Linked DNA regions of Homo sapiens. The protein of the gene in region 1 purifies or fractionates together with the protein of each later gene. This does not show direct contact. Each region holds a gene or a part of one and is shown on either strand. Other genes may lie near its edges. The genes, in order: ZNF154, SERPINA12, PLBD1, AMY1C and IL36G.

What was found.
Region 2: the proteins of ZNF154 (region 1) and SERPINA12 purify together in Homo sapiens (affinity purification with mass spectrometry; one large-scale study listed by BioGRID and IntAct). This does not show direct contact.
Region 3: the proteins of ZNF154 (region 1) and PLBD1 purify together in Homo sapiens (affinity purification with mass spectrometry; one large-scale study listed by BioGRID and IntAct). This does not show direct contact.
Region 4: the proteins of ZNF154 (region 1) and AMY1C purify together in Homo sapiens (affinity purification with mass spectrometry, with the first as the bait; one large-scale study listed by BioGRID). This does not show direct contact.
Region 5: the proteins of ZNF154 (region 1) and IL36G purify together in Homo sapiens (affinity purification with mass spectrometry; one large-scale study listed by BioGRID and IntAct). This does not show direct contact.

What each region holds. Positions count from the first base shown.
Region 1 is NC_000019.10:57,705,002-57,712,237, forward strand, and holds the start of ZNF154 (zinc finger protein 154), read right to left. Parts: upstream 4,204-7,236; 5' UTR 3,971-4,203; coding exon 3,938-3,970; exon of another isoform or gene 123-3,937; coding exon of another isoform or gene 1-122. UniProt on the Homo sapiens protein: May be involved in transcriptional regulation.
Region 2 is NC_000014.9:94,495,970-94,499,469, forward strand, and holds part of SERPINA12 (serpin A12 precursor), read right to left. Parts: intron 2,462-3,500; 5' UTR 2,429-2,461; coding exon 1,795-2,428; intron 675-1,794; coding exon 404-674; intron 1-403. UniProt on the Homo sapiens protein: Adipokine that modulates insulin action by specifically inhibiting its target protease KLK7 in white adipose tissues.
Region 3 is NC_000012.12:14,510,830-14,517,633, reverse strand, and holds part of PLBD1 (phospholipase B-like 1 precursor), read left to right. Parts: intron 1-5,922; coding exon 5,923-6,123; intron 6,124-6,233; coding exon 6,234-6,374; intron 6,375-6,804. UniProt on the Homo sapiens protein: In view of the small size of the putative binding pocket, it has been proposed that it may act as an amidase or a peptidase.
Region 4 is NC_000001.11:103,754,703-103,761,154, forward strand, and holds the end of AMY1C (alpha-amylase 1C precursor), read left to right. Parts: intron 1-12; coding exon 13-112; intron 113-2,092; coding exon 2,093-2,211; intron 2,212-2,321; coding exon 2,322-2,447; intron 2,448-3,766; coding exon 3,767-3,956; 3' UTR 3,957-3,990; downstream 3,991-6,452. UniProt on the Homo sapiens protein: Calcium-binding enzyme that initiates starch digestion in the oral cavity.
Region 5 is NC_000002.12:112,982,143-112,988,023, reverse strand, and holds the end of IL36G (interleukin-36 gamma), read right to left. Parts: intron 3,185-5,881; coding exon 2,975-3,184; 3' UTR 2,366-2,974; downstream 1-2,365. UniProt on the Homo sapiens protein: Cytokine that binds to and signals through the IL1RL2/IL-36R receptor which in turn activates NF-kappa-B and MAPK signaling pathways in target cells.

The DNA.
Region 1 (7,236 bases):
AACCACCAAGAGCCCCTATCCCAAGGACCCACAATGCATACCCCCACATCTTTACCCCATGCCCATTCTCTTCCCAAGCTCCCCAACTGAGAGGAGAAACCAGCACATGGATAAATAGGCATCTAAGCTGGGGGCCTGGCATGGAAGGATCCATACTATCCCATCATGAAATCCCCCTGAAATGTCCAAGGTCATCTAAGTCTCAATACCAGGGCCCTGCAGCTGTCACTTACTCCCTTTCCAGATGCACATCATTCTTCAGAATACACATCCCTCCTATCTCCAGACACCACAGCCCCAAGCCCAGGGCTGCCACCTCACTGCCCACACCATAGGCATCTCCCTGCTCTTACCTCCCATGTCACTGTTTTAATCTCTTCCTCTTTACCCCATTAGCGAAGGCAGGATTGCCACACTAGGGTTATGGATATGGACAAACACACAATACCTGACACTAGAAAGACGATACAGCAGTTGGGTATGGTGGCTCATGCCTGTAATCCCAGCACTTTGGGAGGCCAAGACGGGTGGATCACGAGGTCAGGAGTTCAAGACCAGCCTGACCAATATGGCGAAACCCCATCTCTACTAAAAATACAAAAATTAGCCGGGCGTGGTGAAGCACACCTGTAATCCCAGCTACTCAGGAGGCTGAGGCAGGAGAATTGCTTGAACCCAGGAGGCGGAGGTTGCAGTGAGCCAAGATTGCGAAACTGCACTCCAGTCTGGGCGACAGAGCGAGACTCCGTCTCAAAAAAAAAAAAAAAAGAAAGATGATATAGCAGTTTATTAATCATATGTACATAGAACCTGGGAGATGAGGACAACATGTACCACACAGGGTCACATGGGGGTCTAGTCCAGAAAAAAAGTGAATAACCAAAAACTGTGGGATGCAAGCACTTTGAGAACAAAAGGATCAACTGCCCCCTGGTTCCCACAATGGGCTTGTTTGGAAAACTCCATGACCTGGTAGGGAGCTGAAATCTGCTACAAAGTGATAGGCAGAAATTGTGCCTGGTCTCCTTGATTAAAAGGGTTGTCTGTTTGGGAGAAGAGTAGGGAGGGAAACTTGTACTCAGGCCATTTGATGCCACCCTGATTTCACCAGATGTCATACTGGGCCTTAATTTTAGACTTTACACCATAACTTAGCACACAGCGTCCAGAGTATGCTCGACAGATTCAAACGGATCTAATACTACCCTAGATCTCCCAGGGCATCCACTAGTGGTAGCAGCCCCAAATCCTATGAGGGCTCCCTGGCTGGCTCCATTCTTTGCCTCAGATTTAGGCCACACAGAACCACATGTGCATCTCAGATACCCATGGCCCTATTCCACTTCCGTGCTGCACTTGCTAGCCCCTCAGCAGTAACAACCTTCCTCTGTCCACTTAACACTCAAAGACTAGCTCCACTGATCACCTACCCCAGGCCAAGTGACTGTCACAGATGACCACATTGGCACCTGGCCTTATCCTCCAGGTTGAATAAACACCCTAGGCCCCATCAAAGTCATCAAAAAATCCTGGTGATTCCACAGAGTGCTGAATAAGCACAAAGGAAAAAAAGGACAGCCATTTGCCTCAAATACACCTATGCCTCTGCATCCACCTTATATCCACTCTTCCCTTGAAAGTGTATGCCACCTGCCCAACTATCCTCTCCAAACACCCTACCTCCATAGCCACTAACCTCCCTTACCTCTGTTTAGAAAGCCCAAGAATATCACCCACTTATCCAACCAAAAGGCTTGGTCCTTAGCCCCCATTCTGCCCTTCCTGGCCAAATAACCTGTACCACCATGCCTAAAGATTAACCCTTGTAGGCCGGATGCGGTGGCTTACGCCTGTAATCCCAGAACTCTGGGTGGCTGAGGCGGGTGGATCACCTGAGGTTGGGAGTTCAAGACTAGCCTGACCAACATGGAGAAACCCTGTCTCTACTAAATAAATACAAAATTAGCCGGGCGTGGTGGCGCATGCCTGTAATCCCAGCTACTCGGGAGGCTGAGGCAGGAGAATTGCTTGAAGCCGGGAGGCGGAGGTTGTGGTGAGCCAAGCTCGCGCCATTGCACTCTGGCCTGGGCAACAAGAGAGACACTCCATCTCAAAAAAAAAAAAAAAAAATAGAACAACCCTTCTAAATGTAATCCACAGCTCACTCACCTTAGTCCACACAATGACCACCACATTTTGGATGTCTCCATTCTGAAGCACTCCCCAGATTTCCAGACCTGGGTGTTCAGCCACCTACTTAATGCCTACTTAATGTCTCTGAAACATCTCAAACTCTTACATGACCAAATAAAGCTCCTGTTGTCTCCAGTGAATATTACTGTTAATACCAACTTCTCCATCTCAGTTGAAGAACCATGGGGTCATCGCTGAATCCTGTTTCACTCCCTCGCTGTCTACATCAGAAAATTTAGTTGCTCCCTTTAAAAATTTGCATCCAGAATGCAACACATCTCCTAATCAATGACTCTGGTCCATTACCCTGGACTGGCTGTAGCTTCCACTCTGATCTTCTTTCCTCTTCCCTCAACCCCACAGTCTGCTCTCCACGCTAACGGGATGGACCCTGTTAGGACTTTGGTAAGATCACCTCCCTCTTGTAACCCAAATCTCTCATTACCTCCAGAATAGGTACCCAACTTCTCAGGCAGCCACTGCAGTCCTGACTCCTTCCCCCTGCTCTTTGTTCCCAGCTAAAAGGAAACAGATCTATGGTTTCCTCAAAAATCTCAGCTTAGTTTTACTAAGCACTTGCGCCTCCTGATACCAGTGCCAGAGATAACCTTTCACAAGTTTCCACTGGCTGACAAAAATGGGAACACCTCAGTATAACCCCTGTAACCTCTGGCATGGACTTAAGAGCCCTGGGCTTGGAATTTCTCCAGGGCACCAGACCCAGGATTGGGGTAACAGCACTTAAGAATACTAGGAAACCACAATCCCAAGAACATGGGGGTAGAGGCTACTGAGGGACCGAACACTCTCCACTTCCCTATGTGAGTTCCATACGCCCTTCTACAACTGGGAGAACCAGGGAAAGAGGAATGCATCCCTGGTGAGGCTAGATGAGCTCAAGCCTCCCTGTAGCCCTGCCTGGCCCTGAACTCAGGCTGGCTGTTTTACTTTCTGGTCTCAGTGCTGTCACCTCTTGCCAACTGTAGGGCAATGAAAAAAAGATGTAGCCTCCCACTATCTCAATGTCCTCATCGCCCCATCGCTGCTCTTCCTGTGAACAGTCTTTGGAAAAGTTTTTAAACCCTAACATAGGGCGGGCACGGTGGCTCACGCCTGTAATCCCAGCACTTTGGGAGGCCGAGGCAGGAGGATCACTTGTCAGGAGTTCCAGACCAGTCTGGCCAAAATGGTGAAATCCCGTCTCTACTAAAAATACAAAAAATTAGCCGGACGTTGTAATCCCAGCTGCAGGCTTGTAATCCCAGCTGCTGGGGAGGCTGAGGCAGGAGAATCGCTTGAACCCGGGAGTCGGAGGTTGCAGTGACCCGAGATCGCGTCATTGCACTCCAGCCTGGGCGATAAGAGCGAAACTCCGTCTCAAAGAAAAAAAAACTAACATAAATGGCGTCCCTCCTTTGTTCAGAACTCTCCGTGGCTTCTAGCATCCTCACAATGACAGTACAACCCTAGGAGTAACTCCGCCTCATATTCTTCGTTCCCTGCAGAAAACAGCTTTCCGAATTCTCCTGGCTCAGTCGCGCCTCAACCTTTGCACGCGCCGGTTCCTCCGCCTGTCACGCTCTCCCACACCTCGTCACACGCAGTGTCAAAAAAAGGGCCCCACCCACGAACGCCTCAGTGTCCCCGACCCTGGGCAGCGGGGACTCGAGCAGGCGCCCCTCACTGATGGCTTTAGAACGTGGGTGGGGGAAGGTGTGTGAGGACGGGAAGACGCCGCACTCACCTGAGTTGGCGTCCTCAGAGTGGCCGCTGCCATCAGACTCTGCGGGTAGAGCTGGGCCGGGAGCGACGGGCGACATTGGTAGGGACCCGGGGACAGCGGTCCCTATCCCAGGCCTGACGTGGGTCCCCCAGGGCGGCGTCGCCAAGGCTTAGACGCTTTCGTGCAGGAGGGACGACGACTCCCCTCACGCCTTCGTGGCCCCAACTCGGCGCTCTGCTATCTCTGATCCGGTGAACACACCTCAGAGAAGCTAAAATGGCCGCCACGAAGAGGCCCCCCCAAAAGTCCCGTCCTTTCTTTTTGTGACTCTCAAGGAAAGTCGGTTTTCTGAGCTCTTACTGGCTTAGTAGCGTGGCGTTCAACGCAGAGCATTCTAGGTAATGTAGTTTTCATAGATCCCGAGGTGGGTGCCGGGGACCCTTTGCACCAACCTCTTGGAGTAAAAGCGAAGCTCCAGGGCGCTGGGCGATGAGAAATGGCTTATCCAAGTCCTAGGGCAGTGGAGGGACTTCGCCCTTTCTTAAATGGGTCGTAATCAGACAGCATATTAGAGGTGCCATCTGCAACTGATCACCCAAGTGTTTGGGGAATATTATTTCAAACTTCATAAAGTTCAGCAGGCTCCCAGAGGCTAAAATTATTATCAGACGCTCCCTAAGGCTGCCAATCCAAATATGTACATCATTCCATAGAGCCATTCAGACACGAAATATATCCACTAGTAGGGAAGCTAATAAACATTACCATATAAGTTTATTCCTTTTTTTTTTTTTTTAAGACAAAGTTTCCCTCTGTCCCCCAGGCTGGAGTGCAGCGGCGCCATCTGGGATCACTGCAACCTCCGCCTCCCGGGTTAATCGATTCTCGTGCCTCAACCTTCCAAGTAGCTGGGACTATAGGCGCGCGCCACCACGCCAGGCTAATTTTTTGTATTTTCAGTAGAGACAGGGTTTCACTATGGTGGTCCCAAATTCCTGGCCCCAGGTGATCTGCCCGCCTCGGCCTCTCAAAGTGCTGGGATTACAGGCGTAAGCCACCGTACCCAGCCTCTATCATATTACATTTCAAATGTATGCACTCCGAAGCATTGAAGTCAGTCTGTGCACTTTTGGTCAGGGACAGGTGAAAAACTACTTCAGATAGTGGCATGATAGTGCTTCTAGAAGATAGAAGAGAAATGTTAGATCACCTTGAAACAGTAGTACAAAGGTAGAATTCTGTCTGATTCCAACAGAAAACATCTTTTGCCTGCATAGTCAATTATTGTGTCCAATTACTGTGTCCAGTCAATAACTGTGTCCAATTCACTGAGCAACGCTTTTATCCATTTCATAATTCTTACTTGATATCTGAGATATATTCCTTCTAGAAGTCTAACATCAATCTCAAAAAACAATGAAAGAAATGCTACTTTGATAAGAGACAAAGGGGAGAGGTGGGACTTCTTAATCAGAAAGCCGGTGAAATGCACTTGAAGGAAGTGAGAAATGAGCCATGTGGGTATTTTTAGAATAAATTCCAGGCAGAAGAAGCAGGTTACTAGAGTGCCTGGATGGATGGAGACTTCACAGGGCATTTCAGCATTGGAGGGCCTAGGGCTCCAACCCAGCAGGCCTTCATCTGCTTTGCTGGCTGCAGAGACACTCAGGGTATATAGGTGAGAAATCTCTTCTTTTTTTTTTTTCTTTTTTTTTGAGATGGAGTTTCACTCTTATTGCCCAGGCTGGAGTGCAATGACGCAGTCTTGTTTCACTGCAACCTCTCCACCTCCTGGGTTCAAGCGATTATCTTGCCTCAGCCTCCCAAGTAGCTGGGACTACAGGCGCACGCCATGACACCCAGCTAATTTTTGTATTTTTAGAAGAGACGGGGTTTCACCATGTTGGCCAGGCTGGTCTCGAACCACTGACCTCAGGTGATCCACGCATCTCGGCTTCCCAAAGTGCTGGGATTACAGGCATGAGCCACCGAGCCTGGCCGAGAAATCTCTGCTGCTTTGTTATAAAGTTTTGGAGCCGCAAAATAAATAGCACTCGAATATAAAATTTTCTTTTTAATTCTCAGCAAGGTAATGTACTTTTTTTTTTTTTTTTTTTTTTGAGATGGAATCTTGCTCTGTCACCCAGGTTGGAGTGCAGTGGCGCGATCTCGGCTCACTGCAAGCTCCGCCTCCCAGGTTCACGCCATTCTCCTGCCTCAGCCTCCCGAGTAGCTGGGACTACAGTTGCCCACCACCATGCCTAGCTAATTTTTTGTATTTTTAGTAGAGACAGGGTTTCACCATCTTGGCCAGGCTAGTCTTGAACTCCTGACCTCATGATCCACCCACCTCGGCCTCTCGAGGTGCTGGAATTACAGGCGTGAGCCACTGCGTCCGGCCCCAACATTTATTTTAATGTTCAGATTCTCCCAGATGTTTGGACAGTGGGAACTCATTAAAGCTGTGCTCTCTGCTTTTTTATGTCAATATTATTGATAATTTCATTACTTTCTAATCCAAAAATATTTTCAGGCTCATGTTGTACCCTTGCTATCCCAGCCCCAGAATCAGCCTCTTTTTCAAGGAGCTCTGGTTTTCTTCAATAGATAACAATGCTTGTAAATATTAGTAAGCATTAGCTGTGCTCTTTTCTACTGGTAAATCATTGATTATTAGGTCCTCTTGGAGAGAAAGCAGATACATACACATGCACGCACACATTTTTTTTTTTTTTTTTGAGACAGAGTCTTGCTCTGTCGCCCAGGCTGGAGTGCAGTGGCACGATCTCGGCTCACTGCAAGCTCAGCCTCCGAGGTTCACGCCATTCTCCTGCCTCAGGCTCCTGAGTAGCTGGGACTACGGGCGCCTGCCACCACGCCCGGCTAATTTTTTGTATATTTTTAGTAGAGACAGAGTTTCACCGTGTTAGCCAGGATGGTCTCGATCTCCTGACCTCGTGATCCGCCCGCCTCGGCTTCCCAAAGTGCTGGGATTACAGGCGTGAGCCACCGTGCCCGGCCACTTGCACACATTTCTATACAAATTTATTTCTACATCTATATTTACATCTGCAAAGACTTGAAAAATTCAGATATTTGAAATGACTCATGGGACTGAAAGCACTCTCTCATAAGGCTTTTATTTAAATATAAAGCATACAGTACAGCTAGAGAAAGACAGAACAGGCATCAGGGCTCAGAAAGATCTGGACCCATGACCCTCAGGATTCTTATTCACAAGTGGACATGCTTCATCTCTGGACTGTGCCACTAATATATATGGGATGGAGCTTGATTTCAGAAGAATTAATAACAGAAAT
Region 2 (3,500 bases), on another chromosome or scaffold:
TGACACCACAGTTGACAACATCATTCTACTCACAACTCACAGCTCTCTTTTACAGCCCGTGTTTGTCCTTGCAGTTTCCTTTGCTCCTCACCCTTTCATACAGACTGCCACTCACCCTTGAAGACTTGGCTCAAATGCTATCTCCTCTATGAAGTCCTCCCTGACCACCGCCCTCCAGTAAGACTCCATCTACTGCGCCCTCACAGTCTTGATGAATCTCCCTCAAAGAGCCAGGCACTTCACTCTATTCCTATGATTTGTTCCCCAGTCTAATTCTCACCATGATATAAGTTTATTATAGAGCCCAGAAGAGGACTTGGCCATGAGGTAAGAGCTCAGACAGCAGAAATAAGAGGGAAGACAAGAGAAGGAAAAAGCTGCGAGGGCTAGGCACCCACTTTACCTGCGTGACAGTAATGTTTTCCATCTGGAGAAAGTGTCCACCTGCAATCCCTTCTCCAAGTGCTTCAGCTTGCCCTCATCAGGAAGGATGAAGATGGCTGTGATATTTTTCTGGTAGGGTATTTCCAGGATGGTGCAAGAGAGCTTATCGTCATAGCCAACTTGGTATATGCCACTACGGAACATCATGGGCACCTTGACTGAACTGTTTTTCTCCAGAAAGAAATCTTCCTCTTTAGTTACATTTGGATCAAACTCATGTTTCCACCTGGCTTAGATTGAAGAAAGACAAACAGACATGTTATCCCAAGGGAAAAAAGGTGACTAAATCCAACTAACCAGTAGTCTCTCTCCACACAGATTCAGGGTGAAAGGGGATATTCCGGGATATCAGGGAAGTCCTTGCCCTCATGCCATGTCCTGGAGATTTCTGATGATATGGGCTCAGGTGCAATTATTAGTTCCCAAAGAAGCCAGGACTAGACTGCCAAATTAAGAGGGGAAAAGAAGACTACCATAAGCTCAGGTTCCCCTAAGCCTGAGAAAGCCCACTGATTATGTCCTAACAGAGGGGACTGCATTACAATTAATGAGGGCTAATTGAGTCTGATGTGAGTAGACTCTTCTTTAGCCATCAATCTGCCTGTGGATTTTGAGAACCCTCAATTTTTTATATTTAGTACCATGTTCCTGACACTCCAGCAGTGATTTTGTCTGGACTGATGGGTGTTGGCCTCTGATTCTCACCTATTTTGGCCAACCTGTTTGTGTACATGTGTTCTGTGTGGTGTTGGGGGATAAAGTTGAAATTGGAAACATTCTTCCATCTTTTTTTTCTGTCTCTCTCCATCAGATCTGGGAAATATATAAAGTCTGATAAGGAGAATTTATATAATACATACATAAGGAGACCCACCAAGTGATCACCATCACCATAATCAACACAATCACCATCTCAGGTGTCTGCTTAAAGTGCTGGAAAGCACACAGTGCTAGGGCCAGGAGAAATGTGTTCCAGTCCTGACTGTCAATGATGGGCTTTGTAACTTGGAGTAAGTCAGTTAATCTCACTCTGATTTTTTTTTCTCATCTAAGTGATGGGAACAAAATGTCATTCCAACCTCTATAACCAATGTTGTGTTAGGATAATCACCAATAATGAAAATGATAGACTTCATAAAGCTCATTTCACATACATTTTCACTTTAAATCTCAATAACTGTATGAGTTATGTATCATGGTAACCATTTTACAGATAGGAAAAGTGAGGTTTTGAGAGATAAATCACATATGAATTCAAGGTCACAGAGTAAACAAGTGGCCAACCCAGGTTTTTAACCCAAGTCTAGTGGTCATCCTATTCTTTCCACACCAACATGCCAAAAGCCTTACCTCGAAAGAAAATATAATTTGCAAGAAGCATCACAGTGCCGGGGTCTATATTCTCGATCAGGTTGTTAATTTTCCCATGGGTTTTTTGACTGATAAAGTCATTGATCTGCTTCTGAGCCATTTCCAAATTCTGAAAGTTGGTAAGGATGGTTTCGGCACTGTAAAAGTTCTTGGCATCTTCCAAAAACTTACGCTGTGGCTGCAGCCTCTGGTCAATGAACAGCGTGTTCCCAATGCTCAGTTTGAGGTCCTGGGTCTTCTGGGTCAGCTCGTGGATGATGTAATGGAAGCCCTCATGAAGATCTTTTTCTGGCATCTTTCTGAAGTTGAACCCCTGCTTGATCTCGTCCAGGGTGCTGTCCTGGGCACCCAGGCACAGCATGGAGAAAGCTGTAGAGATGCTCAAGGGGGATAGGAAGATGTTCCTGCCAGGGTTGTAAAAGGCCAGCTTCTTGAGCAGCTTAAAGCCTAAGTCCATGTTCTGCCTTGCAAGCTCCTTGGCTGCCATCCTTTGCTTCCATCCTTGGACCTCGCTCAAAGCTTTATAATTCCTTGGTGAGAAGCTCGGCTTTAGAAGACCTTTCACCGTGAGGAGAACAGCCAGAAAAATGGCCAGGCCTAGTGTGGGGTTCATTTTCCTTGAAGAATATCCTGTTGAGTAGTAGACCTGAGGTCAGCAGAAAAAAAGAACATGATAACCCCATTGCCTACATGTTACCCAGAGGAAGACCAGATGAAAGAAGAAATACAGTGACTATTATGTGTTGTACATAGCAGTTTATGAGTGCTTTGACCCCTTTATAGCATTTAAACTTTATAATCACCCTGGGGACTAGAAATGACTTCTACACTTTGTAAATAGGAGGACTGAATGTAGAAGACAACTCTTGTTTTTGTACCCTCTTTATGGAAACAGTGTCTCAATTCCTTTGAGGAACAGCTCTCCTTCCCTCCATTGGACCACAGTGAGGATACCCCGTAGTGTAGGCATATGGCCCAGACCTACCATCATAATACTTCATTCCTTTGCCACACTGGCTGGTTAAAGATGAGAGTGTGGACCAAAATCAGACCTCTCAGTGTCTTTCTAAGGGAATGCAAAACCCCCTAAGCTTTGGGGCAGCTAGCTTTGTGAAGTAGCCCTGGAGCTGAATGTGGCCATGGTTTCCACATGTAGAAGGAGAGGAGAGTGATAGAGGGAGGTGGAAAGACAGAAATGGACTGACACATCTGATGACATCTTTGGAGACCCTGGACTAACCTTTAACTCAGTTTGCTACCCACTTCCATGTTTCCAAGTTATGAAAGCCAATAAATTTCCCTTTTAGAGTTGGCTGGTTTGAGGTAAATTTTTCCCCTTCAGCCAAAAGAATTATGACTAATTTACAGAGATCAAGCTCTTTGTTTAAGCTCATATGTTCTCTAGGTGGTGGATACTCATTCCAGGAGGACTTAGATCTCCAGGAAACCTTCTTCCCTACACCCTTCCCAGGGAGGGAAGAGGATGGCACCATGGGAGAGGAACAGCCAGGTCTGCCTGGCTCTGGACTGCTGCTCCTTTCATCCACCTCTCAGCTTTGACATCTTCCAACGGCCACTGTGAGCTTCTGGGAGACAAGACTTTTAGCTACGTTTTCCCTTAATCTCCAGCCCTAATTCTGCAGAGAGATGCTAAAAGCATGTTGGCCTAAAAAGCTTATTGATTT
Region 3 (6,804 bases), on another chromosome or scaffold:
TTTTGTCTGCATTTTTAAAATAAACAGTTCAGAGAAGTTAAATAGTCAAACAGGTCAAGGTCACACAATTCAGTGGTTGAGGACTGGGTGCAAAGGCAATATATCTAACTATAAATATCCATTTCTTTTTTTTTTTAGAAATGATGCAGTTTGGATTTAAATTAAATGGCTAAAACTGAAAGAGCCGGCTGGGTGTGGTGGCTCACACCTGTAATCCCAGCACTTTAAGAGGCCAAGGCAGGAGGAGCGCTTGAGCCCAGAAGTTTGAGACCAGGCTGTGCAACATAGCAAGACCCCCGTCTCTACAAAAAATTAAAAAATTTAGCCAGGTGTGGTGGTGCATGCCTGTAGCCCCAGCTACTCAGGAGGCCTGGTGGGAGGATCCTTTGATCCTGGGGGTTTGAAGCTGCCTTGAGCCTTGATCACGCCACGGCACTCCAGCCTGGGCGACAGAGCATGGCCTGTCTCAAAACACAAACACAAACAAAAAACTAAAAGAGCAGTGAACTCAAAGGATTTCCTGCCATGCCAGGTGGGTGGAGCTTCTATGTGGGAATAAAAGATGGAACCTATTTAAAGGACTTTTTTTTTGTTTGAGATGGCGTCTCACTCTGTCGCCCATGCTGGAGTGGAATGGCGTGATCTCAGCTCACTGCAACCTCTGCCTCCCAGGTTCAAGCGATTCTTGTGTCTCAGCCTCCCAAGTAGCTGGGACCACAGGCGTATGCCACCATGCCCTGCTAATTTTTGTATTTTTAGTAGAGACAGGGTTTCTCCATGCTGGCCAGGCTAATCTCGAACTCCTGAACTCAGGTGATCCGCCCTCCTCTGCCTGCCAAAGTACTGGGATTACAGGCATAAGCCACCTTGCCTGGCCTCAAAGGACTTTTAATTGAGGATCCCAGTAATGATGATCCCCATAAGGCTGAGGCTTCAAGCTTAATGATCTATAAGTGAGGCTTTCTGGGATGCATTTAGTGTGTTTCCCCAAGCGTGTGTGTGTTCCTACTTCTCATTATATACAGGTATGCTATCACCTCCCCCATACATGTATACATACCTCTTAAACTTAGATGTTCCCCAATTTTTCCTATGGAGCTTGCTAAAAATGCAGTGTCATCCATAGAAATTCATATTTCATTGATCTGGGCTGGGACATTTGTAACAAGCACCCTAGACCATCCTAGCATACTGAATCCATAGTCCATCCTGTTTGTGAGACTATGGCAGCCCTTGTGGTCTAAGCAGCAAAATCTTTGCTTAGCCTTTTTTGTTGTTGTTGTTTGTTTGTTTTTGTTTTTGTTTGAGATGGAGTGTCGCTCTGTCACCGAGGCTAGAGTGCAATGGCGCGATCTCGGCTCACTGCAGCCTCCGCCTCCTGGGTTCAAGCGAATCCCCTACCTCAGCCTCCTGAGTAACTGGGATTACAGGCGCGCGCCACCGTGCCCAGCTAATTTTTGTATTTTTAGTAGAGACGGGGTTTCACCATGTTGGTCAGGCTGGTCTCAAACTCCTGACCTTGTGATCCACCTGCCTCAGCCTCCCAAAGTGCTGGGATTACAGGCGTGAGCCACCGTGCCCGGCCTTGTTTTTTTTTGAGATGGAGTCTCGCTCTGTTGCCCAGGCTGGAGTGCAGTGGCCAATTCAACCTCTGCCTCCTGGGTTCAGGCAATTCTTGTGCCTCAGCCTCCCAAGTAGCTGGGACTACACCACGCCCGGCTAATTTTTTTTTTTTTGTATTTTTAGTAGAGATGGGGTTTCACCATGTTGGTCAGGCTGGTCTCAAACTCCTGACCTCAAATGATTCACCACCCACCTCGGTCTCCCAAAGTGCTGGGATTACAGGCATGAGCCAGCTTGGCCTTTTTAAATATTAAGTGCATGTACTTGAAAGTAGGTACACATGAAGATAAAAGAATAGGCTCCAGGAAAATTTAAGTCAAGTCTTCATAATCTATAAAATTGCCTATTTAATAAATATATGTTGTAAACATTTTTAATGTTCTGTAATTACTGTTATTAATGTCATGTTACCTCTTTGATCTAGGTACTTTGGTCATAAAGCTGAAGTATATAAAAACAATCTATATTTAGTACAGACCAAAATTCATGTCCTTTGCTTTTAAAAGGTAGAACCAAGAAAAAAAAAGCAATAGCAGAATACGGGCACGTATTCTAAAGAATTATAAATGGATTTTGCAGCACTTAATTTCTGTTTTTTTTTTAAGTACCTTTCTTTGATTCTTTGTCTCCTCATTGGTACCATCCCAGAACACTGATGTCTTCTGCCAGATCAGACCTGTCTTGATCATCTTCCCCACCTAAATCAGGATGTGTCCTCCCTTCTACCTTTCCAGAAATCCCACCTTAGTTTTCATACTTTTCTTGATTAACTGGTCATAAGATGATTTCCCTCAACTCCACCCTGTCTCAACATGCAACTCCCCATGAGTCAATCTTCATAATTGTTTCTAATGTGTTTGTTCCATGGTGTGTGTTGAGTAACTGTTGTTGCCATTTGCATGACTACATAGTGGTTACTGTTTATTTCTGCAGTTTGGTGTTTTTTTTAAGTCTTGAAATAGGATTTATTAACCGGAAGTGTTTCTTTTTATTTCTTAATTAAATTCAGTGAGAAGCTTATCATGAAATGTTATTCTTAGGCTGGCATTCATAAAACACTGGAGTGTTTCATTTTCTCCTGATCTCAATCTGCCTTCCAAAGCTGCTAATGACAGATGAGAGCAAGATTATAATTTTAGTTAGGGTGTGGTGGCTCATACCTGTAATCCCAGCACTTTGGGAGGCCAAGGCTGGAGGATCCCTTGAACTCTAAAGCTCGACACCAGCCTGGGCAACACAGGGAGACCCTGTCTCAAAAAAAAAAAAAATTTAAAAAGATTATAATTGTATGTAGTCAAAGAAATGTGTTTCTTTTCAAAGGCAATGTGTCAGAACTTTGTCCCATCTCTGGGCCTTTTCTTTATTATCTTAAACTCTAAACTATAGAATTAGCCTCCTCAACTATAGTTTTTGCAGGCCAGTTCACTCTCCTTGCTCTAGAACTCTGGATAGCCTATATATTTCCATCATCCTGTCTCTTTCATAAAGAATCTTGCCTTTAAATGAAAGACTACTCCTTAAACATTAGTACTTGTAATATTCAATCACCTACACATATTAAAGAACGCCTGCCCTCTTGTGTCCAGGGAGACTGCTACAGCAAGTATTGAATTAGCAAACTTGTCATTCCGGAAATACAGCATTCTACCCTACAGGGATTATCTACCAGGGAGCTTTCTCAAGGCTGCCAAGTATGGTTGTACAGTTTGAAAAATGATCCCAGCCCAAGACACGAATGCAATCCATTTTACACTCTGTCAAGCCATATATCCTTGCCCAGGTCATGTCTTTCTAGAGAGGTGACCCATTAAAATTTCATTCAAGAGTACTGTTAAACCTTGTACCACTTGGAATGTGCAACTTTCTCTAATTTACACAAAGCTCTCTATAGCTTAATGGCAGCCGTGTAGAGGCTCATTAAGAGTTAGTTGGGGCCGGGCACGGTGGCTCACGCCTGTAATCCCAGCACTTTGGGAGGCCGAGGCGGGCAGATCATGAGGTCAGGAGATCGAGACCATCCTGGCTAACATGGCGAAACCCCGTCTCTACTAAAAATGCAAAAAATTAGCAGGGCGTGGTGGCGGGCGCCTGTAGTCCCAGCTACTTGGGAGGCTGAGGCAGGAGAATGGCGTGAACCCAGGAGGTGGAATTTGCAGTGTGCCAAGATCACGCCACTGCACTCCAGCCTGGGCGACAGAGCGAGACTCCGTCTCAAAAAAAAAAAAAAAAACTAAGAGTTAGTTGGACAGTCCTCTCATCGTGTAACTTTCCTACTCAAGAAATTTCAAGAAATTAAAATCAGATTGTTAGAGCTGAATAGCTGAATGACATTAGTCCCAGGTTATCAGAAGAAGGAAATAAGGAAGAGAGAGGCAAAATAAGAACTGTCAAATTCATTAGAGGCAAGCAGGAAACTAAAATGCAGGTCTTCTGACTCCCAGTCCATGCTCTTACCTCCGGTTTCAGGTGACCCGTTTCTTTGACCCCACCTTACTTATTCCATACTAGGCTAGAATAGATGTGTAATAGCATGCATAGGGCTGGTGGGGTGATTTGAGGCAGTATGTGGACAAACATTTTTTGCACATTAGTAGAAATGTATTTGTTTTAATGTATTTCTTTGGGAAAAAACAAAAACATTAAGTCCATAGTTTCTGAGACATTATGATATATGACAAGGGTAAGTTAAGTTTGAAAAGTGAGTTAATTTGAAGAAAGATATTAAGTAGTGCATATGTTAATAGCTTGATTTAGCCATTGACAATGTATACATATATCAGAATATCATTTTGTATGCCAAAATATATACAATGTTTCCTTGTCAGATATCAAAATATCCTTTCTTTTGTATAACATAAATATATATAATTTTTACTTGTCAGTTAAAAAATAACAAAAATATTAACTAAATGATAGTTCAGATAGTACTCAGATATGGCAAAAATGATAAAAGTGGTAAAAAATCATGGTAGAAATTTGAGACCATCTCAGTCCATTCTGACTACTATGACAAAACACCTCAGACTAGGTAATTTATAAGCTATAGAAATGTTATTGCTCACAGTTCTGGAGGCTGGGAAGCCCAAGATGAAGGGACTGGAAGACTCAGTGTCTAATGAGGGTCTGTTTCTCGTAGACAGTGCCTTCTCTCTGTGACCTCACATAGTGGAAGGGGCTAGCTAGCTCCCTCGGGACTGTTTTGTAAGGGCCTTAAAACCCTTCAGCAGGATGCACCGAAGGAACTTACCACTCTGGCCCCTTCTAACCCTACCACTGAGGTCCTTTTCTGTTTAACACTGACAGTTGTTCCATTACTGTTACTGATGACAGTATATCCTCTCTTTTTATTACAGCTGTGCCTGATATTCTATCCTTTCCATACTCATCCCAGTATAAACCACAAAATAGGTCTTCAGAAAAGACTGTGGCTTCACTGATTTTCCTGTGTTGCCTCCAACATTTATAAAAAAGCATTGACCAAGAGTGTCAATGCCCTAGTTTCAAAACCATCTTTACTTTTCTAAATGTAGATGTTTTTCCATTTATAAAAATTATGTAGACTTAGCCGGGTGTGGTGGCCCACACCTGTAATCCCAGCACTTTAGAGGCTAAGGTGGGTGAATCACTTGAGGTCAGGAGTTTGAGACCAGCCTGGCCAACACGGTGAAACCCGGTCTCTACTAAAAATACAAAAATTAGCCAGGTGTGGTGGTGCACACCTGTAACCCCAGCTACTCAGGAGGCTGAGGCACAAGAATTGCTTGAACCCAGGAGGCAAGGTTGCAGTGAGCTGAGATCATGCCACCACACTGCAGCCTGGGTGACAGAGTCAGACTGTGTGTCAAAAAAAAAAAAAAAGTAGACTTATACAAAATTTGAAAAATACAGGAAAGTAGAAAAGAAGAAAAAAAGGCATTTATATTCTTACTAATGAACCCTGCTAATCCCCTCCCTAATTAAAAATTCTCCTGCAAAATCCTAGCAAGTCGGGATCTACATCTGTTTATCATTCTGGAAGCTTGCAATGTTCTGGATTTAACATATTTTTGTTATTTCAAATCACAAAATAAATTTTCAATGGAGAATCCAGGGGTGGAGTTCTTTTGGCACCTCTATAAGGGGCAGTTGGGTGACTACCACAGAGGTGAGCCAAAGCTGGGGGAGGCTACTGCAGATCAAGGATAGTAATAACTGATACACTTTGCAAAATGCATTGTGTATGTAAAGCTCTTTGTCAATAATGATGGTTCACTGTTCCATGTATACATATGCTGATGTGTATATTTGTCTTTCCTGTAGGGTTTTTGGAGTCTCTGGATGATTTTTACATTCTTAGCAGTGGATTGATATTGCTGCAGACCACAAACAGTGTGTTTAATAAAACCCTGCTAAAGCAGGTAATACCCGAGACTCTCCTGTCCTGGCAAAGAGTCCGTGTGGCCAATATGATGGCAGATAGTGGCAAGAGGTGGGCAGACATCTTTTCAAAATACAACTCTGGTAAGTGACCCTGCAGAATAACTGTTAGGCACAGACATATATTTTGATTTAGGCTTGTTAACCAGTAAAGTCATACCCATGCCCCGTCTTCATGTTTCCTGATATTTCAGGCACCTATAACAATCAATACATGGTTCTGGACCTGAAGAAAGTAAAGCTGAACCACAGTCTTGACAAAGGCACTCTGTACATTGTGGAGCAAATTCCTACATATGTAGAATATTCTGAACAAACTGATGTTCTACGGAAAGGTACTTTCTTCATGTCGTAAGTCTTAAAACCTGATGAGTATGTGTGTGTTCATATATGGTAGGGGAATGCACATTGTGTGAATGTGTGGTGGGGGAGGGTATGGTGGGGAAGACAGGATGGGGATGCTATATTACACCAGAATGACCAGGTTTAGCACAACATGTAAACCTACATCTCAAACTCTTATAGGACAATGTGCAGATTGGGACGCAAATCAGGCATTCATGACTCTATGATTTCTCATAGTTCTAATGTTACCTTTTCTCCTGTGTTCCTGGTTAAAGCTTTAAGTTCAATTCAGCAAATATTTTTGGAGTGCCACTGTGGCCCAGGGACTAGAAAAGCAAGGATACAGAATCCCTGACCTGGAAGGACTCAGGAGTCTAGTAGGGAAGCAAAGCACTCAAAGCAGCTGCAGGAACTCAGGAT
Region 4 (6,452 bases), on another chromosome or scaffold:
TGTAACTTTCAGGCTGTACAAAATGGCAGTTGGATTTATGCTTGCTCATCCTTATGGATTTACACGAGTAATGTCAAGCTACCGTTGGCCAAGATATTTTGAAAATGGAAAAGTAAGTTTTGGAGTTGTTCAAAATATCCTTTTCTCAAGAAAAAAGAGGCAATCTTCTCCTAATTTAATATGACAACTATTAAGTGTTTATTTATTCAACAAATATTTAATTATTGTAAACCTGATACAGGGTTGTGATTTAGTAATGCAGGTTATATTAAAGGAATAAACTTTATATTCTCCATTGAAAAAGAATAGCAAGCTTTTTCAGAGATATGACAAACATCCCCCTAGCCCGCAGGGAAAATAAAAATAAAAATTAAAAAAACCACTTAAAAATAAGAGCTAGGCACAGGGATTAAAATATATACTTCGTACCTTCCTCAGGTTTAATTGGAAGAATATAGATGCCAACCCTTGTAGAGAACTTAAAACATCATCTGCCCGTAGTGAGAACAATATAAATGTCTTTTAAATACTGTTAAAAAGTTATATGGTATAGAAACAAATGATCCAGTTCAGCTGAGTTAAATAGGGAAAGTATACTATAAGAGGAAGGAAATTGTATGTACTAAAGGATAGAAATTTATAGAGAGTATTCCAAGAAAGGTAAGAATGAGAAAAATATTTGGGAGTATGGTAAAGACATCACTCTGCTGAGTAGTTTCAAAAAGGAACAGAGAAATAAGAGTGTAAAGATATTTGGAAAGCTAGTAGAAGGTTTTCTTTTAAACTAAAGGGTTGAGAAACAGCATCAGAGACTTCAGAACTAAAGCAGAAATTCCTCCTTCCTATGAGTCACACAGATATCTAGCTAGCTTTTTTTAGATTCCTTTCAGTTTGAGAAGTCCGCTACTATGTATAACAACTGATTCTATTGTTAAACAGCTTTAATATTTAGAAGGTGTACTTTTATATTGAGACAACTTCTTATAATTTCTACTAATTGGTCTTATTTCTGTTGTTAGGAGTCAGAGAGTTCTTTTATTTTTTCTATTACTATAACATTCCCACTTTGACAGGACTGCTGCATGCTATAAACTCTTAAGTTTTGTTCACTTTTCACCATATGACGTGATTTTAAGGTGAACACTGATAAACTTCCTAGGGTTACTCTGTGTTTTTTAATGAAGATTTCTTAAAGTGCCAATCAGAAAAGCATAATACTAAAAATATGGTCAATTTATAAAAAAAAATGTTCAGATGTAGTATTTTGTACATTTATCTAAAAAGAAGCATGACGGCCTCCAATATTTATTTAGCATATGTCATGTTCAAGGCATTTTCACATATATTACTTAATTTTTATAGCAAAAGAACTCATTATTCTCATTTTACAAATGAGGAAACTGAGACACAGAGAAATTATTTATATTGATTAAATTTTCTCAGCTACTAGTAATAGAGCCTATGTTTTAATCCTGGTGTTTCTAGTACTAATGCCCTTCCCATTTCAATGCCATTGCATGGCTTACAGTGATGTTAAGAAGCCCTTGCAGGCCAGGTGCAGTGGCTCACACCTATAATCCCAGCACTGTGTGCGGCCAGCTGAGAAGGTCAGCTGACCTGAGGAGTTCAAGACCTATCTGGGCAAGCTAGCAAGACCTTGCCTCTACTGAAAATTAAAAAAAAAAAAAAAATTAGCTGGGTGCGGTGGTGCACACCAACAGTCTTAGCTACTTGGGAGGCTGAGATGGGAGGTTCGCTTGAGCCTCGGAGATCAAGGCTGCAGTGAGCTACGATCATGCCACTGTACTCCAGCCTGGGTGACAGAGCAAAGAAGTCTTTGCAGTGCCTTGGAATGAAAAGGAGAGGATAACAATTTGCTACCTTTGTTTGAAATATGGCAAAAGAGAACCAGAGGATAGAGAGATGATGAAGACCCAGTAAAGGGCTATAAAAATCAATGAAGGCATTGGATTCTAGATAAAGTCACTGAATGCAGAGACACAAGTAACAGGATAGGTTGGGTTTGGTTTAAAGGAGAAGGAAGAGATAAATATATATATGCTAAAATTTGGCTTTTCCTCCTGTAATTAAGGATGTTAATGATTGGGTTGGGCCACCAAATGATAATGGAGTAACTAAAGAAGTTACTATTAATCCAGACACTACTTGTGGCAATGACTGGGTCTGTGAACATCGATGGCGCCAAATAAGGTGAGAATATGTATTTAGACATGTCCTCTAATAGTAAATTTCCGTAGCACTTTATTTAAAACAGTTGAAGTTTAAGAATATCAACGTTTTATATGGTATTGTGTTTTTAGGAACATGGTTAATTTCCGCAATGTAGTGGATGGCCAGCCTTTTACAAACTGGTATGATAATGGGAGCAACCAAGTGGCTTTTGGGAGAGGAAACAGAGGATTCATTGTTTTCAACAATGATGACTGGTAAGTAAATATCAATTAAAAATAATATTTTGTACCAGTATGTTCTTGGTTTATTCTTTTTTTTTTCTGTTCATTGACATTTATCATATCTGAAAAATCATGTAGTCAGTGGAGCGAGAAGACAATAGAGATCAAAATTGGGTAGAAGCAAAAGGATGATGGCTGTTACTCCTTCGTTCTCCTGTTTTCATAAGGGCTTTCTGTTGTAAGCAGAATCCTTTCTGTGCACCCTTGCAATATCTTATGCATATATAGAATGCACATTCATATGCTTACCTACACATGCCACAAAATACACAAAGTAATTAATAGAAGGATTGTGAAATCATTAAAAGAACGTTTCTTATAGTCCTGCTCTTTTAATCATGGAAAAATGCTGCCTCAGTACTAAAATATCTTTATTTCTCTTTTTCTCAATGACAGCTCTACCTAGTTTTTTGGTATACTTTCTTCACTTCTCTGTCTCCTTGTGACAAATAACATTTTTAAAGCATATGGATAAATAATATGTATCTTGTGGTTAATGATTTGCTTCAGGAGACTTGAGTTTTAGTTCTGAAACTTCTCATTATTGGCCTTTCATCTGTGATTTTTGTATCCTTTGGCTGTAGTATAAATGATTCCCGAAACTGTAGCTGAGAAGACCTCCTTGCAAACAGTTGAATTGTCTCTGTCCAAGGCCAACTGACACTCATACTTAGCTCACTCTAGTATAAATTATACTTCACTTATGAAAAATAAATAAATACAAAAATATATAAGTCAAGTTGATCTCTTTCCTGCCAAAAAAATGCGTGTCTATTTCCTTAGTTTCCTTCTTTTGTGGATGAAAATACCAAAAAAATCTTTTGTGAAAAAGCTTTATATTTCAAACTATCACTTCCTCATACAAATGCTAGATTGTTTTTATGTACACCCTAAATTCTTTTTGACCTCATGTAGAATAAAAGAAGGTTAAAAAAATAATACCCTTTAAATTTTTAAAGTAATTGGCATTAAGTTCAGTTGAGAAAAAATTTGATTTTACCAAGGTAGCACTTTATCAAAATGTGACCGCTCCCGCCAATCTTCGGTGATATTCTTCAACTTTGATTTTTCGGTTATATTTTCACTACTGAAAAGGAAATTGGTAGGTTTTCTGTAAGGTTACTTTTGGTCCTAGAAAGCTGTTTACACCTACTAGGGAGGCATATGGGTTTTCTTCTTAATGAGACTTCACTGCTTAGGGTTCTAAAACATAAAGTTATGCTGTTTATTTGTGTTAGTCTGTATTCTTGATTTCATTGTTTTGAAGTTAAATCTGAAATTTTATTTTACAGGACATTTTCTTTAACTTTGCAAACTGGTCTTCCTGCTGGCACATACTGTGATGTCATTTCTGGAGATAAAATTAATGGCAACTGCACAGGCATTAAAATCTACGTTTCTGATGATGGCAAAGCTCATTTTTCTATTAGTAACTCTGCTGAAGATCCATTTATTGCAATTCATGCTGAATCTAAATTGTAAAATTTAAAATTAAATGCAAATCCGCAAAGCAATAGCTAAGTGTGTTTCTTTTCTTACATATACAGTAATAGTTACATATCATTAATTTTAAATAAAAGCTCTAATTAGTAAAAAGAGGTTTAAGACACTTGATAGTATGAAATACAATTCCAGGTTACACATAAGTTATTTATTTTGGCAAAAGGATGACTCAAAAATTTTAAAACTAGGCAACAATCTTTACTCATTAAGAGGTAAGACTTAGCTTTCCAAACAGTTTGTCTCCTGTCTACTCTTTTCTCTCCTTGGCATTCTACCAACAAGGCAAACCAAATATTTCATTATTCTTCTCTATTACATGAAAAATCTGTACAAGGGAAGGAAAGCCAAATTTTACCCTTACATAGGTTTCAAAAGAATCCTTTTTCCATAGGCAACATTTACATTTTTATGCCTTTTTATAATCTTTTACCACAAACACATTTAAGTGTTCCTACACACCTTGCATGTAAATTTATTTTTAGTTGTCTTATTTACATATTTTTATGGTCAATCTTAGCAATTTTTAACTTTAATGTAAACCTGGTAAGTTGTTTTAATTATGTACTAGATGCAGATAAAGTCTGACTTTTTCCATTCTAGTTAGGGCATGGTTAATTTCATATGTCCCCAGGCCTTACCAAGTTGTAAAGTAGGCAGCCTACAACCTTGAAATATTTAGCAAGCCTTTTATCTAATTTATGTGATTTAAACCTGCTATTTACATATTGATGATATTTGCATTTTCCAATTTGATCTTTAAAACAGTTTTTATTTCTTAGAGTTTAAAAACACATAAACTAAAAGGCATTACGGTTTTAACTTTCCTCTAAAATATTTGATTTAAGTGCTTATTTTTATTTAAGGCAATCAATTGGTCCTCGTTACAGACATCACACACAACACATATATTGCTACACAGACAAACAGAAGAAGATCCAGTAGCTCTAAGATTTCTTCTCGTCCCATTTCCTAATTGCATTACTGGCTTCCCAGTAGAGCCCTTTAAGAACAGGGATAGCAAACCACGAAGTTTCTAGGGCCTAATCAACTTGTATAGCTGTAAGACAAAAACAGATTTTGAGCAGGATTGATCAGCCTCTAGATTCTGGGATTCCATGAGGAAAACAGAGGTTTCTCCCAAAATGGAATCCATCATGCATTTTCTGTTTTTCCCAAAACGTTTCAGGCCACCAGAAGTTATCTTGTGTGCATTAAGAGTGGAAAGACAGAGTGGAGAACAGTAATTCAGTCAATGGAAAAGTTCTTTTCAAGAAAAACACGATCCAAGAAGACAAAAACATGCAGGTCTTTTAAATATACCTATAACTTGAATATCCACTTTTAATCAAGCTCAGCACCCTTTCAGAAAATCCTTTGACATCTTCTGTTTCCTGACTTTAGCTAAATCAAGCAGGTAATATTTCTGGCTTTTGAATTTTACCAAAGGTAACATCACAGGGGAAACTAAAAACTCTCCGTTAGGTTATAAGTTCACCGTTAGTATACAAGATATTTTATAAGTGGTGGTAAGCAGCTTTTACCAGATCTAGAACCTTTAAAGTCAGTTGAGAGAAAGGAAGATTTCAGAAAGGCAGTTAGAGTTTTTCATGGCGGAGCACGAGATGATTAAACGTCACACAGTTGTTAACTGGAAAGTATTCATCACCCAGGCTGGGATTGAACCTGGGTCACCATTGTAAAAAGGCAACGGCTGAAAAGTGGTACTACCACATGGTTACAGGTTATGCTTAAGGACATAAAACAAGTCGGAGACATGCAGCAAAGTTTGTTACTGACCAGTTTATGAGGGTGTCTTGAACAGTGAGCTCAAGGAGTCTCAGGCCTGGATTCCATTCCAAGGTACCCTCTGTCTGACTTTTTCTTCTATTTTCTCTCCTTTTCCTGAGCCTCCTCCTAGTATGTCTTATGAAAGACAGAGGTGGCTACTCTTAGAAGGTTTTCTAAGGTGCCTTCTAGTCCTATAGCCTGTTTCTGTAGCTTCCTTCAAATATCAGGAGCTGCTTGAGTAAACCTGTCTTTCAAGATTACCTGTCCCTCAATTGAATTAGAATATAGGGAAGCATGTTTTGCCATAGTCTCTGTCAGCCTTTATAGAAAGGTTGAAGGATTTTCATCTAGGTTTTGATCTATCATGGATAGCTTAGAGTAGTTAACAGGTTTGGCTCTGGTCCTCTGTACACCTTCTACCATATACATCTGAAAGTGATTTCTTTTTCACTCATCTATGGGCTTCGTAGGGTTCCATTTAGAGTTTTCAATGGATACTGCCTCTTTTCCTACTAGGTATGGGGATTCTGCCTCTTTCTCACCCTCTTTCCCATTTTGAATGGCTATAGGAGACATGCTGTTCATCTCTGATTTTTTCTGCTACCTGTAGGGCTGCCTGTCTCTCAGGAGCAGTTAGGGTTTAAGAGTAACATAACATCCTTGCAGGAGAGTTTAAATACTTGGGTT
Region 5 (5,881 bases), on another chromosome or scaffold:
GATGGATTAAATACTTAAACGTAAGACTTGAAACTATGAAACTACTAGAAGAAAACATAGGAGAAACATTGTCTGAGCAAGGATTTTTTGGATAAGACCTCAAAATCAAAGGCAAAAAACAAAATCAGAAATAAACAAATGTGTGACTATATCAAACAAGAGAGCTTCTGTATAGAAAAGGAAACAATCAACAGAGTGAAGAGACAACTTACAGAATGGGAGAAAATATTTTCAAACTATACATCTGACAAGGGGTAAATATCAAAAATACATAGCGAACTTAAACAACTCAGTTGCAAATAATAATAATAATAAATAAATAACCTGTTTGAAAAACAGGCAAAATACCTGAATAGACATTTCACAAAAAGAAAGACCAATAGATATATGAAAAAATGCTCAATATTCCTAATCAGAGAAATGCAAGTCAAAATCACAATGGCGTATCACTTTCCCCTAGTTAGAATGGCCATTATCAAAAAGACAAAAGATAAGTGCTGTCAATGTTGTGGAGAAAAGGAAGCTCTTAAACACCCTTGGGGGGCATTTAAATTAGTGCAGCCACTCTGAAAAACATTATAGAAGCTCAGAAAATTAAAAATAGAACTACCATATGATCCAGCAATCACACTATGCAAAGGAATTCAAATCTTTATGTCAAAGAGATATCTGCACTCCCATGTTTATTGTAGCACCATTCACAATAGCCAAGATATTGAGTCAACCTAAGTGTCCATCAACAGATGAGTAGATAAAGAAAATGTGGTACATACACATAATGGAATACTATTTAGCCATAAAAAGGGATTGAAATCCCACCAGTTGTGACGACATGGATGAACCTGGAGAACATTATGCTAAATGAAACAAGCCAGGCACAGAAAGACAAATACCACATGATCTCACTCATATGTGAAATTTTAAAAAAAGTAGATCTCATAGAGGTAGAAAGTAGAATGGTAGTTACCAGAGGCTAGTGTAGTTAGCCAGGAGGAGGGATGGGGGGATGTTAGCCAAGGGCTACATAATTACAGTTATGTAGGAGGAATAACTTTCAAGAGACCTATTTTACAGCAAGGAGACTATAGTAAATGATGATATATTCTCTCAAAAAATGTAGAGAGTGGATGTTACGTGCTCTCACCACAAAAAATGATAACCATGTGAGGCAGTACATTTGTTAATTAGCTAGATTTAACCATTCCACAAATGTATATGTACTTCAAAACATCATGTGGTACCCAATAAAAACATACACTGTTATCTGTCAATTTAAAAAGATATGTAAAAATTGAGCTTTAAAAATTATTTTTAAATGTTTAATTAAAAATAACCCCCCAAAAAGAAAAAGTTAAAGAATAAAGAGGTATCACATTAAATCCATGCTTGCTGATTGCTTATTGTAATTGTTAGTAGTGGATGCAGTCTGATTGCCCAAAAGTAGAAAAAAAAATAAGTTGCTATGCTATTTTGAAGAATGTACTTAAGCAAACAGAATGTTCTGCATTTTCAGTGTTAGAGTAAAAATAAAGAAATCTATTATATACAGAATCAGATCTGAGGTATATATTTCTACAATTATACCCACAGTGAGTGTGTTAGGTCGTTCTTTCATGGTTGTAAAGAAATAGCCAAGACTGGGTAATTTATTAAGAAAAGAGGTTTAATTAGCTCACAGTTCTGTTCTGCAGGCTTTACAGGAAGCTTGGTATTGGTATCTGTTTGGCGTCTAGGGAGGCCTCAGGAAGCTTCCAATCATGGCAGAGGGTGAAGGGGGAGCAGGTACATCACATGGCAAAAGCAGGAGCAACAGAGAGAGTGAGGGTGGAGGTGCCACACACTTTTAAACAACCAGATCTTGTGAGAACCCACTCACTATGGTGAGGACAGCATCAAGCCACAAGTGATCCACCCCCATGACCAAAACACCTCCCACCAGGCTCCACCTTCAACACTGGGGATTACATTTCAACATGAGATTTGGACGAGGACAAACATGCAAACTATATCAGTCAGTTATTTAATTTCGTCAGAATATATCTTCTAAAGGTGGCTGTTGGGAAAGCAAGGCTTTCTCTTCCAAGAAGAAAAAAAAGACATCTTTACTGAAGTTTTTGAAAAAAGTATGTGAATGGTGAGATGGTCTAAAAGGAAAAGACTAGAGGAAGCAGGGAAAAACCAAGGCTATTCGACCATAAAGAAAGGAGCCAAACAGCAGAGCCCTGTTACATACTGAATTTCTCACCCCCACCCCATCACTATCCACCAAGGAAGGCCCTTTTGTCCCCAGCTAAGCCCCAGTCCCAGGTTTACCCACTGCAATGGCTTTATTCAACTACTCTTGCTAATTTCAGTTTACTCTTTCTTTATTTTATATCAGTTTTAGCTTTATTATTATATAAATACACAAAGTTTATTTAACTTTAAGATTACACATTACAATTAGGACAAAAATGATTTAACTTAACACAAGAATTATTTTTGTTTACAAGGTCTTAATGCTAAGAAGGTTCTATTACACACAATGAGGTATATTGGCAACATATAAAGACTGGATGATATCATCCCAAGAGGGAATAAAGCAAAACAGAAACAGAGATCAGCTCTGTGCTAGTCATGCCATCGTGGGTAACGCGCATGAGCTCTGAAGCATCTTCATACCCACCCCTAGAAGAAAGCTCAGTGTTTGGTCTTTGAGTCTTAAAGTCACTCATGCAGATGCCTTGTGGCCTACACAGCACCAGCTTGAGAGGACAGCCTTATACCACCCAGCTCTCCTGCTTCTGAGGCCACATCCTGTTCTTCAGTTGCTATGAAGTAATTGCTTCTTCTTCATTATAAAATGAGATGATAACAGCAGCCTTGCCCCTGTCTCAGCACCAGCGTGAAAATGACACTAAGAAAATGTAGACGAAAACACATTGGGAACCAGAAACTTTAAGACAAAGACCAAGCTGCCACCTCTAGGCTGAGTTCAGTCATTTATATTTAATTCAAAGGCAGTGTTGTATGACTTCCCAAGTTCTGAAGTCAGAATGATGGGCTGGTCTCTCTTGGAGGAGGCAATGAACCAGTCCGGGAAGGCCACAGACTCAAGGGTGGAGGTCCTACCAGTCTTGGCACGGTAGAAAAGGAAGGGTTTCACGGGCTCGGGTTGGCCATACAGATCCATGATCTTCTGCTCCTGAAATGTCAGAACAAGTACCCATTAGGAGAAACAGAAGCTGTTTGAGATATTCAAGGTTATTCATAATAATTCAATAAATGTTCCAAAGTTCCAGAAAACCTTATCCATCTATTAGAGCAGGCCTAGAGAAACACACATTTTGAAGGAGCAGCAGAGTAAACATACATGAAATTTTACCTTCCAAGCCCCCACCCTCAAATCCAGAGATGGTGTAGGAAGTTTACAAGGGAGAGTTTAATGAACAAGCAGCCACACTTGAACAACAAGTTAGAACTCTTCTCACACAAGAGGCTGAGGTGACCCTTAGGAAGAGGAAGAAATTGGAAATTACCTCCCTTACCAATACCACAACAGTGAGAGTCACTACCCTGCAAGAACCACCGGCGTGACAAAGGACAGCCAGGTTAGGGTATGAATTTCTGACTAATTGCCACATATATGAGAAAGATAAATACCAATGAAAAAGACCCAAGAGGGTCTAACAAATCAAAGGATTTGTATCAAAGGAAGAAGGTAAATAGAGCAATCAAAAAATGCCTTCTATATTGTATATGGAACTATATTCTGTATGTCTATATATTTGTATGTACATGCATTGTATATTTAGGTAAAATAAGTATTTCTAAGTAAATTGCAAGTGTTCAAGATCTCAAGAGAGACACAGAAATGATCTGTAATTCAGCCACATTCCACCCTGAGTGAGAAGTTCTTCTCCCACAGGATTCCTTTACTCAATTAATGGCTTCCAGTTAATCTGATTCTTTGGGTGGCCAGAAACCTAGGAGTCATTATTGACATTTCTTTTTTTGATCCCCTAACATCTAACCCAGGAGCAAGGCCTGTGGACTCTATTTCCAAAATACCAAAATATTTCCTGAATCGAGTCACTTCTTGCACTCCACACATGGCATCAACCCCAATCCAGGCCATCACTCTCTCACCTGGACAATTAGGGTGACCTTCTAAATGTTCTCCTTGAACCTACTCTATTCTCTAATAATCATTCTCCATAAGGCAGGTAAGTGAACTTTAAACTGAAGTAAATAAATAAGATTATGATACCCTTTTGCATGATTTTCTATTGTTATTACAGTGAAACTCCTCGGCAAAGCCCACAGGGTCTACGCCACCCAGCTCCTGCCTACCTGCTGCCCTGCCTTCTTACCACTCTCCTGCATGCTCATTCTGCCCCCACCAACCTGTCTTCTTCTTTGCCTTCCAAGACACCAAGCTGTTCCCACCCAAGGTCCTGGCACTTACTCTCCCTGCACCTCACACCAGCCCCACATCTTCCCAAGGCCAGCTGCTCCCCATCACCTGGGTCTCCTCCTTGGGGAGAACTTTACTGAACATTCCATCCCAGCCAAAATCGGTTTGGAATCCTCCCTCCTACTCATTGCGATCATATTCCTGAGTTATTTTCTTCATTAGTACCAACTGCTATCTAAACTTAGCGTATTTATTCATCAATCCCAGAATGATTGTTAGACTTGTTCATCACTGTATTCCTCAACACAGAGGAAAGCCCCCAGCATTCTACTCAACAGAGATTTGCTGTTTAATAAATGGAAGAATGCTTCCTCCTTTGAAACTCCCATACCTCCTCCATCATCACCTTCAACTTCCTACCCACTGAGAAAATTGAAGTAATTAGAAGACAACTTGTACAAACCACACCATAACATGGGCTCCCAGCACATGGCACCCATATCTGCACCTCCCTGCTTGAGGAGGACTGGGTGAAAGGTCCTATCTGCACTTGCAACTTAAGGACATCCCTCTAGCCGTTCTCCCTGCTCTCTTGTGCTCCATCAATTTTGCTTGCTCTTCTTAGTCATTCCCATCAGCATATTTGCTGTCATTTCTACCATCTTAAACAAAATAACTACTTTGCTTACCCACCACCGCCACCAGTTCCACTTTGCAGAAAACTTCCTGCAATCGCTGTCCATATCTGCTGTCTCTGATCCCTTTCTTGTAATTCCTCCCTTTAAACTTACTCCATCCAGGCTTTTGCCCCCACTACAGCACCAACACTGCTCCTGCCAAGGTCCCCAAAGACCCACACATTGCCAAACGCAACAGTCAATTCTTAGTCCCCATCTGAGAACAAACGCACAACATAAGGGTGACTTAGCTGACAGGACAAAGTAGCAAATGTCATTCTCAGTCCTGACTTTATTGATCACACTCACAATCCTGTTTCCTCCACTTAAAATACTACCAGAATCTGACTCACTGCTCCCCACCTCTGCTGCTATCTCCTGGCCCATCAAATCACACCTAGACCACCTCAAAGTCTCCTGAAGGACTTTCACCTTTGCCCGCCACAGTCTAAGATCTCCAGAGAGATCCTTTTTAGACCTAAGCCCCTTCACGCCATTCCTCTGTTCAAAACATTCTAATATTTCCCATTTCACTCAGATTGCAAGGCTGAGTCCTTGCAAAGGACAAGACTTTCATGTCTGCCTTTATCTCTCTGGACTCATTCCTCAATTCACTCCTGCACACCGGTCCTCACTGGTCCTGGGACGTGCCCTCACTAGACACCTGCTAACTAACTTCCCTAGCTCTTTCTACTCCCTGCTAACATCTCACCTAGGCAATGATGCCTATTGCACTATTCACCACTGCAGCCTGACGCCGCCTGTGTTCCTGGTACTGCTGGTCTATCTATCCTGCTGTAACCATTTT